2 separate regions of the Homo sapiens genome follow, and region 1 is linked to region 2. The links come from fine-mapping of genetic effects on gene expression. Tissue or cell type: gastroesophageal junction. Region 2 holds a variant in brackets; the other region holds the start of a gene. All regions are shown on one strand. Distances are from middle to middle.

Region 1 (2,628 bases), 550 kb after region 2:
GATTTCTCATTGGGGGGAAGATTTTTTTTGTTTTCCATTATATTTTCTCAAAATTTAAAGAGTAAAGAAATGAATATTTTTTGGGCCAGGAAGTGTGGCTTATGACTATAATCCCAGCACTTTCAGAGGCTGAGGCAGTCAGATCACTTGAAGTCAGAAGTTCGAGACCAGCCTAGCCAATATAGTGAAACCTCGTTTGTATCGAAAATACAAAAATTAGCCGGGCATGGTTGTGCGCGTCTGTAATGTCAACTACTCCGGAGGCTGAGACAGGAAAATCGGTTCAACCCAGGAGGCAGAGGCTGCAGTGAGCCCAGATCTCGCCACCGCATTCCAGCCTGGCCAAAAAAGAAAACTCTGCCTCAAAAAAAAAAAAAAAAAAAAATAGAAAAAACTAAATATATAAAAGAAAATAAGCCGGGCGCGGTGGCTCACACCTGTAATCCCAGCACTTTGGGAGGCCGAGGCGGGCGGATTACTTGAGGTCGGAAATTTGAGACCAACCTGACCAACATGGAGAAATCCCATCTCTACTAAAAATACAAAATTAGCAGGGCATGGTGGCACATCCCTGTGATCCCAGCTACTTGGGAGATAGAGGCATGAGAATCGATTGAACCTGGGAGACAGAGATCGCGCCATTGCACTCCAGCCTGGTCAACTAGAGCAAAACTCCATCTCAAGAAACAAAAAAAGAAACTGATAGATCTCTTACACAAATACGCTGGGACAACTAACTGGATATCCACGTGGAAAAGAATAATGTTGGATCCCTATGTAACATCATCAAAAATTTTATTATAAAAAAGAAAAGAGAGAGAGAGACGAGGAAGGGAGCCCTGCGGGAGGGGGTGTTACTTTGTCGCCCAGGCTGGCCTGAACTCCCAGGCTCGGCGATCCTCCCGCCGCTGCTTCCTGAATAGCTGGGACCTCAGGCTCCCACTCCCGCGCCCATATCCCAGCTGTGTTTAAGCCGCAGGTGGTGACCTCACCCATCCTTGGCCTGAGCACTCCATCCTGCATCTCAGGCAGTGGCCTGAGTCTCTAAAGCTGAGCACAGCGTGGACTCTCTCCCAAGTGAATGGAGAATAGAAAGGGAGAGGATTTCTATTCGGTTCTGTGGGCTATCAGCATGAAATTGTACCTTCCGCCCAGGCAGGGCTTTGCATTTCACATTCTAGTTTGCATCCCCGTTCCAGATAATTCCAGGGCTTTTGAATCATGCCTCAGCCTTCCTGGCCGGTCTCGCCTCCAAAACCCGAAAAATGCCTCTGCGCTGGGAACGATGCTGAGAGACTCACAGGTCCCGCCCTGGCCCCGCCCACTGCTGGTTCTAAAGGGGAAAGTCTCTCGGCTTCCCACCCCGCCCCTACCTCATCCAGGCCCCGCCCACCTCGCGGGCCCCGCCCAGACCTGGCTTCTGTACTGCGCGCGCACATGCGCGCAAACCCGGAAGCGGATTATGTGGAGTGAAAGTTACACCGTGGCGGTGAGTTTCGCTCTTCTATTAAGTCTGCGCTTACCAGGTCCCCGGCGCTGCTGTACCTGAGACGTGGGGTCCCCACAGACCTGGAAATTCTCTCCCTTCTTCCTTCACCCAGGACAAATTGAGACGTCCCCATGAGAGTCCGGATATCGCTTCCTTTTGGGTTTAAAGTCGCCCTGAGGCTGGGCTGTCCCCGGTCTTTCTGCTGTAGGGCGATGTATACACTTCCTGTCGCGTAGTTTTCCTGCTCAAAACTGTTTTCTGACTCCTCCCGCCCCTCGCTTTTTAAAGTCCTCACCCGAGAGCTGGATTCCCGCCCTGGGCGCCTCCCACCCTCGCCTTCGTAGGCCACTGGAGCGCAGCGCCAGGGCCCCAGTCCCAGGGAGGCCGCGTACTTTGCCTGGTCCTGGAATCCTGCAGACCCCAACCTTGTCTTAAGGCGCCGTCTCCCCCCCACCTCCCTCCTCGTGGCGGGCCCTGCTGCTCCACAGGTCTCTCCTCCACAGTCACCTCTTCCCCTGAACCCGCGTTGGGGAGGTACCCGGGGCCTGTCCTGTGACACGGGGTGTTCTTGCCTGCCCAGCTCCAGCCCCCGGAAAACGAGCTCCTCCGGGATGCAGGCGTCTTATCCAAACCCTCCTGTGATTGTGTCGGCCAAAGGCATTGGGAGACAGAGCAGTAGAAAAGCTGAGACAGAGAAAAGAATGAGAAAGACCCATAACAGAGGGCAAAGTAGAGGGTGGGTGATGGATTTGTCAAGAGACAGCAAAAGTGAAAAGAAAAAAAAAGAAAGCAGGAGGAGAAAAGTAACTGGAGAAACGTAGAGAAACCTAGATGTACAGAGAGATGAAGGACAGCAAGGTAGGGAGAGGGGCAGCAAAGAGGGAATCTCATCAGAGTGAGGGAGAGGAGGAGGGATTTGGAGCCAGGGCAGACAGAGCAGAGTGGTGCTGGTGGCAAGGAGAACAGAGGGAGAACCACAGCAGGGAGGACACCTGGGGATCTGTGGTTCCACATATTGGGGACAGGGGGTATAACAGGGAAGACGGAATTTAACAGGGAGAGCAGAGGATGCACAGAGATGGGAGAAGAGGCGGAAATATATCAAGATTGAGGACGATAGAACGATTGGGGAGAAGGAA
Region 2 (2,757 bases):
ACAGCGCCCGGCCGACACAGTTGTTTCCTAGTAAGATAGGAAAAGATCTTTTTCTCATGGGCTATTATGTTGTTATTTGAGTTAATACAGGTAAAGTATTCCGAATAATGCCTTGCACATAGTGTTCAGAAAAGTCAGTCATTGCTATTGCCATTATCATCACAGTTTTTACTTCTGGCCAGTGTTTCTGTAAAGCCACTGTGGACCTTGTCACCTCAGAAGACATCATTCGTGCTTTAGCTTATCTAGATACGGAGTATCACTTAGTGTGTTGAAAATAATATCTAACACTTCTATAGAGATCAGCTTGTGTTTGGGTTTTTATTTGTCTATTTATTGTATTGTCCACAAAACTGAAAACTCCACACAGATTTAGAGGCTATTATAACTACTTAGGGAAAAGTACAATAAAACAGAATTAGGGAGACATAACTTGCTCAAAAATGCCTTCACGCTGGGGCGGTGGCTCAGTGAGCCGAGATCATGCCATTGCATTCCAGCCTGGGCGACAAGAGCAAGACTCTTGTCTAAAAAAAAAAAAAAAAAAAAAAAAACAACAACAAACCTCACATATTCGTATTTAAGAATATAGGAAACACTGATTCAGTTTCTTCTACTGTTCTCTCACAACACAGAATGCTACAGTTAGCCCAGAGGTACTGGGTTTTCCCACACACACCAAGCAAGCAATCCTGCCACAGACACCAGGTGCGTGTTCTCTCATTCCGTTCCATTTTGCCGGGACATGGCATCAGATCCCACACGTTGAGGGCTCAGTCCCACAATAGTGCACACATTTCAATGCCAGTCTCAAGCAGAGGTTGTGACTTGTGCTTACAGATCAGATATAAATCCAGGAGTCCCTTGACCCCCTCCTCAGGTTCAACGAATTTGCTAGAGTGGCTCACAAAATACAGGGAAACACTTTACATAGATTTACGTATTATAAAGGATATTACAAAGTTGACAGAAGAACAGCCAGATGGAAGGGATCAGTGAGGTGAGGCATGGGAGAAGGGGCGTTGAGCCTTGGTGCCCTCCCTGGGTGCACCACGCTGCAGGAGCCTCCCAGTGTTCACCTATCCAGAAGCTCCGCTGAATCCTCTCCTTTTGGGTTGTTATGGCGCCTTCATTACATATGCATGATTGCTTATATTACTGGCCATTGGTTAAACTTTTAGATAGCCTAAGTTTTGTTTTTTTTTTTTTTTGGGAGAGACGAAGTCTCACTCTGTCACCCAGGCTGGAGTGCAATGGCGCGATATCGGCTCATTGCAACCTCCGCCTCC[A/T]GGGTTCAGGCCCCGCCCCGGCCCCGCCCACCCTATGCTCTCAGTCCCTCCCAACGCCTGGCCTTTCCCCACCGCAACCCGCCCCTTTGCCTACTGCGCGGGCAGTTTCTTGCAAACCCGGAAGCAGATCTCTTGGAGTGAAGGCTGTTAGTCGCCGCGTGAGTTTCCCTCTATCTAGATTAAACCTGCGTTTCGGAGTCCCCTGCTCCTCCGTACCCGATGTCCGGGGGTTCGTATAGCCCTTAAAGTCCCCGCACGGCTCCCTCCATTCCATGTAAATTCAGACTTTGCCGCGAGACTCTGGGGGTCGCATCGCTTTGGGTTAAAATCACACAGGCTGGTCCTGCCCGCGGTCTTTCGGCCTTCAGACCATGCAGACACCTCCTTTCCTGCGCCGTTTCCTGCTTAAAACCCTTTACTGACCTGCGCCCTGTGAAGTCCTCATCTGCGAAGTGGGTGCAGGATTTTACCGTCCCCTAACCTCGCCCTAGTCAGCTACTGGAGCGTTAGCGCCGCAGCCCCAGTCCCGGGGAGGCCGCGCCTCTGCCTGGTCCTGGGATCCTGCATACCCCACCCCTCTCCTAAGGCGCCGTCGCCCCCCACCTCCCTCCTCCTCGTGCCGGGCCCTGCTGCTCCCTAGGCCTCCCCTTCGCAGTCACCGTTTCCCCTGAGCCCGCGTTGGGGAGGTGCCCGGGCCTTGTCCTGTGATACCCGGTGTTCTTGCCTGCCCAGCTCCACCCGCTGGAAAATGTGCTCCTCCAGGATCCAGGTGTCTTACTCCAAACCCTCCCTGTGAATGTGTGGGCCAAGGGGATCAGGAGACAGAGAGGGGGGCTGAGAGAAAAGTAGAAAAACGGAGACAGAGGAAAGAATGAGGGAAACCAGTAAACATGGCAAAGTAGAGGATGGGTCAGGATTTACAAAGAGACAGTAAGGGTGAAAGAAGTCGCTGAGAAAGTAACAGGATGGAGAAACAACTGGAGAAATGTAGAGAAAAGCTCGCTGTCTAGAGAGATGAAGGACAGCAAGGTAGGGAGAGGGGCAGCTCCTCAGACGGAGAGTTAGGGAGAGGAGGGGGTATTTGGAGCCAGGATAGACAGAGCAGCGTGGTGCTGGGACAGCAAGAAGGGGCAGCTGGTGACAAGGAGAGCAGAGGGAGAACCACAGCAGGGGGAGACCTGGGATCTGGGGGTGCCAAAGAGTGGGGACAAGGAAGTGAAACAGGGAAGAGGGGATTTAACAGGGAGAGCAGAGATAAGGGAAGAAAGAGGCAGAAATAGATGGAGATTGGGGACAACCAAAAGACGGGTGAAAGAGGAATAAGAGGTGAAACAAGTTGCAAGAATGGAACAGAACAAGTGGAAGAGAAGGATAGAGGGAAGGAGAAACAGCAGGAGAAGAGAGGGGCTCAAAATGAGGAGCAGAGACCCAGGCTGAAACACAGAAAAGAAACAAGGAGAGAGAAGAA

Evidence for each region. PIP is the estimated chance that this variant, and not a neighbour inherited with it, causes the effect.
Region 1: ZNF83 starts here. The variant in region 2 is fine-mapped to the expression of ZNF83 in gastroesophageal junction (GTEx, PIP above 0.99).

Annotation. Positions count from the first base shown.
Region 1 is chr19:52,637,173-52,639,800 of GRCh38, reverse strand. It overlaps ZNF83 (zinc finger protein 83), which reads left to right and starts at 1,446. Exons shown (of 3, transcript NM_018300.4): 1 at 1,446-1,489. It also overlaps the pseudogene LOC124904757. RefSeq lists a silencer at 1,199-1,398 and enhancers at 1,609-1,728, 1,482-1,999, 2,000-2,518.
Region 2 is chr19:53,192,002-53,194,758 of GRCh38, reverse strand. It overlaps ZNF665 (zinc finger protein 665), which reads left to right and starts at 1,401. Exons shown (of 4, transcript NM_024733.5): 1 at 1,401-1,447. RefSeq lists an enhancer at 1,436-1,585. The variant A/T (reference allele first, on the strand shown) is at 1,290.